Regions from separate parts of the Homo sapiens genome. Here region 1 is linked to region 2. A link means that fine-mapping ties the variant in region 2 to the expression of a gene that starts in the linked region. Tissue or cell type: sigmoid colon. Region 2 holds a variant in brackets; the other region holds the start of a gene. All regions are shown on one strand. Distances are from middle to middle.

The links. PIP is the estimated chance that this variant, and not a neighbour inherited with it, causes the effect.
Region 1: it holds the start of ZNF667, and the variant in region 2 is fine-mapped to the expression of ZNF667 in sigmoid colon (GTEx, PIP above 0.99).

What each region holds. Positions count from the first base shown.
Region 1 is chr19:56,475,402-56,480,552 of GRCh38, reverse strand. It overlaps ZNF667 (zinc finger protein 667), which reads left to right and starts at 3,208. Exons shown (of 7, transcript NM_001321356.2): 1 at 3,208-3,281. It overlaps ZNF667-AS1 (ZNF667 antisense RNA 1), which reads right to left and starts at 2,679. Exons shown (of 2, transcript NR_036521.1): 1 at 2,172-2,679.
Region 2 is chr19:56,417,577-56,422,727 of GRCh38, reverse strand. The region is part of intron 4 of ZNF583 (zinc finger protein 583); the gene reads right to left. Among named protein-coding and RNA genes, the nearest start is that of ZNF583, 16 kb to the right of the region's middle. The variant A/T (reference allele first, on the strand shown) is at 3,067.

The sequences.
Region 1 (5,151 bases), 58 kb before region 2:
TGTCTAGGGATAATTCCTCAACTACAGTGGACAGAGCTGGAATCTGAGCCAAGCGGAGCAGTCATGCTGAGTTCAGGAAGCCTCACTGCTAAATGCCACCTATCAAAGTGGCCTCCCCTGACCATCCTGTGTAAAATAATCCCTCCTTCCTCTCTAGACTTTCTAGCGTCTTTACCCTACTTTTTTTTTTTTTTTTTTTTTTTTTAACAAATTAAATCTTGGGCTGGGCGTGGTGGCTCACGCCTGTAATCCCAGCACTTTGGGAGGCTGAAGCGGGCAGATCACGAAGTCAGGAGAGTGAAACCATCATGGCTAACAAGGTGAAACCCCGTGTCTACTAAAAGTACAAAAAAATTAGCTGGGTGTGGTGATGGACACTCGCAGTCCCAGCTACTCGGGAGGCTGAGGCAGAAGAATGGCCTGAACCCAGGAGGCGGAGCTTGCAGTGAGCAGAGATCACGCCACTGCACTCCAGCCTGGGCGACAGAGCAAGACACTGTCTCAAAAAAAAAAAAAAAAGATTCCAGATACTCTGGAGCTGTCATAGGATCAGGTATTTAATTTATGCCTGTAATTCCCATGGGTTCCTGGGGCAGGGGGGGAAGTGGTGGGGAGTCCTGAGGTGAGAGTGAGGGAAGGTCTGACCAAATCCAAGACCAGGACTAGATTCTGGACCTGGGCTCTGGGACAAACTGTCTTAGAAAACTCATGGGTGTCTTGGGAGATAGTTGCTTTATTCGGAGAATGGGCACAACAGAGCCTGATCAGGAGCCAAGACATCCGACCCACACACTCTGGTTTCTCTGAACTAGGACAGTCTGAGGCATAAAGCTTTTTCCCAGATTTTCGCACTAACATGCCCCTAAAACAGCAGAAAGGATGACATACTTTCTTGGGAGGTGGTTTAAAGAAAACAAAGAAACTGCCAAGTGACAGATTTATCCTAAGATTTCTTGGATCTCTTGACCACACCCCTTATTCTAGTATTACCAGGTATTTAGAACAATCTCCAGTCTAGAAAGAAACTTGCTCCAAGGAACAACTCAGAGAACGGCTTACAGGATTAAAGAAAACCTTAAATGGAAAAATTCACTTTTGACCAGGGACAACAATCAGTAAGTGCTAGCTGCTAGTCACAGAGGTAATGGTAAAAGTCCTAATAGTAGTATCTGTTAGCTTTTATTTTTATTATTGCTACTACCTAATCACAGAAATGGGAAACCAAAACTAGTTCCTCACACATTCTCCCTACTACCTAGTCCCCAAAACTTGCTCAGAGTCACCTGGGAAGAAAGAAATCACAGGCCCTGGGTTCCCCTCACACATATACCCACCTATGCAACTACAAAAACTGGGTCTCAACACACAGGCGGGTACACACACACAGAGTCAAAAACACTGGCTTTCCTTGGCCGGTCGCGGTGGCTCACGCCTGTAATCCCAGCACTTTGGGAGGCCGAGGCGGGCGGATCACGAGGTCAAGAGCCCACATGGTGAAACCCCGAATCTACTAAAAATACAAAAAACTTAGCCGGGCGTGGTGGCGGGCGCCTGTAGTCCCAGCTACTAGGGAGGATGAGGCAGAAGAATGGCTTGAACCTGGAGGCGGAGGTTGCAGTGAGCCGAGATCGCGCCACTGCACTCCAGCCTGGGCGACAGAGCGAGACTCCGTCCCAAATCAATCAATCAATCAATCAATCACTGGCTTCCCACACACACACAACACTCATCCACAAAAACTGGCTACGGCTCGAAACCTTAGTCGGATAGTATTTTAGGCTTTATGGGCCACAAGATCTCTGCTGCAAGTACTGAACCCTGCCATTGTGCAAAAGCAGTCATAGAATAGACGTAAATATACACAAGTATACATATTCAAAATGTGTGGTTCCCCACAGAGACGTACACACCGCAAAAACTGGGCTCTAGAGTCAACAGTAAATAGTTCAGGCTTTGTGGGGCCACACAGTACCTGTTCCCACCTACTCAACTCTGCCCTTCCGCAGAAGTGGATGCAGAAGCTAAACAAATGTCCAGAACATACACACATATTCAAAATCAGTGCCCCCCGCCACGTACAAAACCACAAAAATCGCCTCAGAGACACACGTATAAGAAAACACAAAGGTTCGTCCTCACACATGTTCAGGGTAACACAATGTGGGTCTCACCTACACAAACGCGCGATCAAAACCCGGGACCCGCACGCCCAGATGACCGGGACGAGGCCATACTTCACATCTTCTCTCACAGACTCACAATTACGCAACGGTCACCTCAAACGACTTTATGGCGGACACTCCCGGACCTTCCGCTGTCCGCCCCTCCTCGTCCCTTCTCCCCGCCGGGGTGAGCCTCATCCACCCAGTCTCAACCCCGACGCAGTCAGTCTCACTGCCAGCCCGCCGGCTACGCAGGCGCAACACCGCATGGAACAGCCCCCAGGGCGTGCAGGGGCCGTTGGGAAATGTAGTCCGAGCGCCACGCAAAGGACTGTGGGCCTCTTCGCAAAACGTGCAGGTGAGTCCCCACTGTTGGCCAAAAGAAACATCCCTCCGCTGCTCTCCCGGGTCAGTTCATCTCCGACCCGGACAGAGCAGAACCAGCGCAGCCCAAGCCTTCTTCACCTCACGTTCTGGGTGGGACTTTCCACAGCCTCGCTGCACCCCGGTGGATTCTGGAGGTCGCAGGATGACTGCGTAGTGCGCACGCGCGGGTGGGCGGTGTCCGCCTCCGCGGGTGAGGCCGGCTCCAAACCTCGTGAATGTGGGGGCGAAGGACGCTGGCTGGCTGGAGGCAATAAGCCCTCACACGGGAACGTGTGGTTGTGGGAGCGGGGAAGGCGGCGAATTGGGGAGGTTGGGTTTGGTTAAAGAGCTCGAGGAAGGGCCTCAGTGTCCACACGTGATCTCCTGAGAGGATGAAAAGCAGGGCCAGGCGCCAGTCCCCTAGGAGACCGGTGTGCGTGCCAGCCTCGGGGGTGTGCGCAGGCGCGGGACCTCGCGCGTCCGCCTGCACCAATCGTGCGAACGCGCTTGTGCGTGTGGCGCTGAGGGGTCGGGGCCTCAGGCCGGGGCTGGTGGTACTGTCCCCGAGAGGCGGGTGAGCGCACGCCGCGTGGCCTTGTTTGGGGGCGGGGCCACGCGCCCGCATGCGTGGTGCGTGTGTGAAGGGGGGTGCAGCGCGCGGTCCCGGGGTCCCGGAGGGGAGTGCGCAGGCGCTGAGTCCCTGCTCGGCTGTCTCGGTGGTCGCCGCCGGGGTCTGAGCCCGGGAAGACCGAGGTAAGGGGGCTGGCGAGAGTGTGGGTGTGTCTGAGGGCGTGGGCGGCGCGCCCGCCACTGCGTGGACGTTCCTGCCAAGGCGCGCGTGGGTTTGCGCATCCACGATGGCGTGGGCGTCTGCGCGGGTGCTTGCGTGGGCGGTGGGCTCGCGCCTGCGTGGGTTCTCGGCCCGCCACGGCGTGGGGTTTGCGCCCTTCGCTGCTGTGGTTCTCGGGGCTTGTGCGCCCAAGTGTGAAGTTGGCGCCGCGTGTGAGGCGAGCCGTGTGTGCCTGTGTGTGAGGGAGCTATGTCGGGACCGCGGATGTGTATCGCTGCGTGACCCACGCGAAGGAAACAATGGAGCCATTGGGAAGCCGGGAGTGGGTGTGTGACGCTGACTGTGAAGATTTGTGTTTCTGGAGTGTGTGCGTGTGTCAGTGTCAGGCTGATGTGGGCGTTTATTGTAGCCTTGGGTTACTGTGTGACTTGCCTGGGCGTCTGTCTGCCACTTAGCGTCAGTGGCTTTGCGGTTATGAGTGTGTGACTGTGCCTTTCTGGTGTATATCTCACTGTAACCATGGAAATGGAGGCCCACAGGGGAAGAATTCTTAGCAGCTCTAAGATGTGATGGGCTGCCCTGGAAATCTGTGGAACTGTTTAATTGTGCATGACTTTCCTCCTTGGTAAAATAGCATATTAATAGCACCTGCCTGGGTGTTATTGGGAAGATTAAATGGGATGACGTAGCTGAAACACCCTGCACAGAGCTTGTCACATACTAATCACCGTGTTTAGGTGTTGGTTATGGTGCTGGTGGTCGTTTTTCTTTGACCCTATACAGAGGCAGAGGTAGTGGTGAATACTGGAGGACTTTGCATCTCTGAGCTTCGGACTGGGCTATCTTTGTCCACATACCAGGGCATCTGACCATCTCCAGTTGAGCAGTGGTGCGCTGCCCCCGCCAACCACCTGCGTCGTCAGTTTTCTGCATGTGTACATTTGAGTGGAGGACAGAGCCCTCCACTGACGCTAAGTATGGTTGTGTCCCCTTCCTACCAAGGTAGCTTGGAAAAATAAGAGCATGGACTGTGGCGCCCCGCTGTCTGGTGTTGACTCCTGGTTTCACCACTGGCTGGCTGTGTGACTGAGAGAGCTTACTTAAGTCCACCACTCCTCGGTTCACTTGTAAAACAGTAGTAATAACAGAACCAACCTCAGGTTTATGGTGAGCATAAGTAGAACTTGGCACAAGGAAGTGCCACATCAATGATCATCGTTTTATTATTAGCATAATAACCGCAGGCGTCCCACACCTGGAGAATAAAATCCATAGGTAGAAATGCAAAAGGATGAGCCCCAGAGTAAGGGTTGCAGGTCCAGAGGTAAAATAACTTGGACGTCTAGATCAGGGCTTAGGTTCAGAATTGTGTAGGCAGGGTCCTGGGAGGGCAGCATTAGGGTAGAGGAGGTGGGGTCAGGAACAAAGGATCTTCCTGATGGAGATGTCCCTAGGGAGCCCATGGGGTCAAGAACAGAACTTTGAAGTGTCAGGGACTAAGGGATGTTTCCATATAACACATGGGTCTGGAAATGTTTCTGTCCAGACCAGTGTTTCACAGCCTTGGCACTGTGACATTTGGGGCCAGATAGTTTTTTGTTGGGAGGTGGGAGGGGCTGCTATTCTATGTATTATAGGATGTTGTGCAGCAACCCTGGGCTCTATTTACCAGGCCAGTAGCACACCGCGCCTCCCTCTGGGTTGTGACAAGCGAAAAAAAAATGTCTCCAGACACTGTCAGATGTCCCCTGCAGGGGCAAAATCACTCTGATTGAGAGGACCGTGATGCAAGCGCATGGACAGACCGAAGGCATGATGACAGGGAGAAGAGTA
Region 2 (5,151 bases):
TAAGGAAATAATCATTGACAACCAGTAAGGTAAATATAAGAACAAAACAATGAAGGTGGTATTCTAAAAATCATAATCATCTTTTTATATCTAAGTTAATAACAGACTTCAAACACCTTTCCTCTCTTGTCATAGGTTATCCTGCATTCAAGCTAAGTTATCTTTTATAAGCCAGTTTTATGATGTTAATATGATTAAAAACTCCATTGGAATCCCAGGCCTAAAAACAACAGTAGGCAGTATTAATATCCTTATTAGGATACATGTAAAACTTTATGGTTGTTCATATTGTTCATAAAACTCTATGGGTAAACATCTGTAGTTAGAAAAAAGTCTTCCAGAAAATCATTTTCTATGTAACAAACTCCAACCATATGTAAACTTTCAATTGATCCCTGCAGCTAAGATGCCTTCATATAAGAGTAGTTTTGTATCAAACTGCTTGGTCTTACTAACCTAGCACAGAACTTAGTCTGCCTTCCCCTGTCCAGTTCCAAATCAGATCACTTCATTTTTCTGCTTAAGATTTTCCTGTTTCTTACTACATTTAGAATAAAGTGAAAATTCCTACCTTGGTTTATGAAACTCTACATGACCTGGTGTTCTCTGATCTTATCTTCTACTACTCCCTTGCTTGCTTACTCCACTTCAGTCATATGGGAATTCACTTTATTTCCACTTTAGGAGCACCAGACTTGCTGTTTCTCTGCCTGAAAAGCACTTTCCACAGATATCTGCTTGATCCCTTCTCTCATTGCACTTCTTCACTTGAGGTTCTGTTCACATATTACCTCTTCAGTATGGCCTTTGCCGAACATCCAATATGAAGTATTCCACACTCTTATGTTTCTCTTTCCTCCTGCTTTGCACTTCATAGCACTTAACTTATTTAATATCATATTACATGTTAACTTACTCTCTATTCTTATTAGAATGTAAACATTCATGTGCAGGAAGTTTTTTTCTCACCCTTGAACACCCATTGCCTAAAATAGCCTGGACAGATAGAAGGTGCTTAGTATCTTTGGAATAAATACTGAATCAATAAGACATAAAACACCACACTAATTCATCCTCTTATTAGAATGACATGCTTGCATGAATGGGGTAAATGTCTGAAACCAAATGGAATATTACCACTAAACTTAAATATTACAGTGGATAATGATATTTGGAAGGAAAAGAATCTGAAGGCAACATACTTAAATTGAGGCTGCTAATTCCGCTGTGCTGCCTCAGTGCCCTTCCAAATTCCACTTTCCTCTCTAAACAGTTGCAAATCACACCCATGAATGCCCTATAAAAAGTCAACATGAAAATTAAATTCTGAAGACTGATGGGTCAAAAAAGAAATATGAAATGACTGCCAAGGAGCAATGATCTAATTAAACCCAGAATTAAGTTGATAAAACTATAATAAGGAAGTAAAAACACTAATTCTCATTAGACTGAAAAGTTAAGGATAGATATTATAATCGTTACAGGCATGATTCTTACATTTTAGAGTGTATCAGAATTAGATAAAACTTGCTAAACTACAGATTGCTATACCCCACACACAGAGTTTTTGATTGAGTTAGTGGAGGTTGAGGGCTGAGAATCTTCGTTTCTAATAAATTCACAGGTGGTGCTGCTGGTCTCAAGACGACATTTTGAGCATCATTGCACTATAGCACCCACTGGAAGCATAATATAAAAAGGTACAACAAGCCAGCAGATAAAATAAAATGGAATTATAAAAAATATTCAAACATCCCAAAAGAAGATAGAGATGAGCAAATATTTTTTAATGAGAAATATTAAAGAGAAAACAATAGTAGACTCAACTCAAATTATATAAATAATTAAATATTAATGAACTCCTTATTCAGTTAAAAGGCAGAACTTATAGGAATCAACAAAATGAAAGACACAATTATATGCTGTTTATAGAAACCTCACATTACATATAAGAATACATTAATAATACAGATAAAGAAAGATGTAACATGCAAACAGTAAGCATAAGGCTAGATTAACTATATTCACGTCAGATAAAATAGACTTTAAAACTGAGTATTACCAAAGATAGAGACGTATAGTAATAAAAGGATCAATTCATCAGAAAGAAATAATCTTTAATGTCTGTGCACCTAATATAACGCCTCAAAATACATAAAACAAAAATTGAAAGTGTAAGAAATAGGTAATCCTATAGTCATAATAGGCAACTAACACATGCTTTGCTCAGAAACTGACAAAACTAGGAAAAAATAGTAACAAAGAGGATCTCAACAGGGTTAACTACTTTGATCTAATTTATATTTATACAACACTACACCAAACACTTGTACAACATGTATTCGAGTGCACACAATGTGTTCAGTAAATAAGATAGACTATATTCTGGGGCATAAACCAAGTCTCCATAAATCCCAAAGTACCGAAACCAAGATGAGTATGCTCTCTAACCTCAACAGAGGTTAGAGGTTATTGATTTTTAAATCAATAATACCTAGTCAACTCCAAACATCTGAGAACTAAACACATTTCTATATAAATCATGGGTCAGAGTATACAAGAGAAATTAGAAAATATCTTGGTTGATAATGACAGTACAACATATCAAAATCTGTGGGATACAGCTAAAATGGTACTTAAAGGAAAAATCTACAGTTTTCAAATGCTTATGTTAGAAAACAACTAAAAGTCTAAAAATCAATAATCTAAGATGTCACCTCAAGAAGTGAGGAAAAGACCAAAGTAAACTTAAGGAAAGTAGAAGAAAAAGTTAAGAAAGAAAATTAACAATATAGAAAAACAACAACAGAGGAAATAAAACAAAAGTAGGTTCTTTTAAAACATCAGTTATCAAGAAAAAAAGAACAGATATCAGCAACACCAGAGGAGTTATCATTACATAGCCTACAGCTGTTTTTTAAAAACATTAATAAATTGAAAAACTCAGATGAAACACAGAAATCTCTTGAAAGACACAGCCTACCAAAGCTGATTCAACAAAAATCAGATAACCTGATTAACCCTATATCCATTAAAGCTGTTATGTAAAAAATACTTCAGGCCCAG[A/T]TGTCTTCATTGGTGAATTCTATCAAATATTTAAAGAAGAAATAATACCATTTTATTCAAACTGTCAGAAAATAGAGAAAGATAAACACTTTCCAACTTGTTTTCATAAGGCCAGTATTATCTTGATACCAAAACCAGATAAAAAAATTATAAGAAAGTAAACCCGCAGGCTGGGCGTGGTGGCTCACGCCTGTAATCCCAGCACTTTGGGAGGCCGAGGCAGGTGGATCACGAGGACAAGAATCGAGACCATCCTGGCCAACATCATGAAACCCCATCTCTACTAAAAAATACAAAAATTAGCTGGGCATGGTGGCGCATGCCTGTAGTCCTAGCTACTCGGGAGGCTGAGGCAGGAGAATCGCTTGAACCCGGGAGGTGGAGGTTGCAGTGAGCTGAGATTGAGCCACTGCACTCCAGCCTGGTGACAGAGCAAGACTCCATCTCAAAAAAAAAAAAAAAAAAAGTAAACCTGCAGACCAATGTAGCACATGTACATAAGGCAAAATCTTTAATAAAACTGTGCAAATGAAATCTAGGAAAATATTAACAGCATGATCTTGACCAAGTAGAGTTTATCCCAAAAATGCAAGATTGGTTTCACATTTGAAAATCAATCAATGTAATTCACCATATTAAAAGGTTAAAGAGAAAAAAAATCACATGATCATTTCAACAGATGTAGAAATAGTATCTGATCCATTTATTATAAAAATTATCAGCAAACCAGGAATAGAAAGTAACGTTTTCAAACTGATCAAGGACATCTAAGAAAAACTGACAGCTTACACTGACTTAATAGTAAAAGACAGAATACGTTTTCCCTTAAGATTGAAACAGCACAAGTACATTTCCTCTTACCCCTTCAATTACACATTATATAGGAGGTCCTAGCCATTGCAATATATCAAGAAAAATAAGGTATAAGGATCAGAAGGAAAAAAAAACTGTATTTGTAGATAGCATGATTGTCCATCCAAAAAATCCTCATGGACCTACAAAATAACTGTGAGGGCAACCATTAAATGAATCTAGCGAGGTCATAAGATGTAAAGCTAATATAAAAATCAATTTACATTTCTGCCTACTAGTGGCAAACTATTAGAAAACTGAATTGTTAAAAAAAATTCTATTTATTATAGCACTCAAAAAACTATTACAGACTTAGGAAAAAAAATTTAACAGAGTACCACTACACTGGATACTGCAAAATATTCTTAAGATAAATTTTATTATTTTTCCTTTTTCTTTTTCAGACAGAGTCTTGCTATGTTGTCCAGGCTAGTCTCCAAGTTCTGGACTCAAGCAATCCTTCCAAATCAGCCCCCCAAGTAGCTGAGATTACCAGCGCACACCATTACACCCAACTTCAAGACATTTTTAAAGACTAATAAATGGCTTAATAAACCATACTTATATTAGAAGACTCAATGTTAAGAGGTCAGTTTTTTTCAATTGACATACAGAATCAATGTAATCCCAACAAAAATCTAAGTTTTTTGAGCAGAAATTCTCAACTTCATTCTAAAATTTATATGAAATGCAAATGATCTAAAACAGTCAAGGCAATTTTACAAATTGCTCTATCTGGTATCAAAACTTACTACAAAGCTACAGTAATCAAGGCAGTATGGAACTGGTGAGACAATAGACATATAGATCAATGGAACAGAAGACATTCCAGAACCATACCCACACATATGTGGTCAAGTAATGATCAGGAAAAGTAGCAAGGTGATAGGTGATAGAATTAGGAAGGGAAAGTCTTTCCTGACAAAGGGTCTTGGGGCAACTGTATATCCATATGGAAAAAAAAATGAACCTCAACCTTTACCTCACACAAGACACATAAATTAGCTCAAAATCATTCACAGAGCTAAATATAAATGCTAAAACCTTAAAACTCCTAGAAAAATATCTCTGTGACCTGGGAGTAGCAAGAATTTCTTAGATATAAGAAGCACCAACCAAGACAAATTAATAAATTGGATTTTACAAAAACTGCAAACTTTGCCTCCAACAGAGGTGGCAGCAGAAAAACAAAAAGGCAAGCCATAATTGGCATACATATAAGCCAATACATAT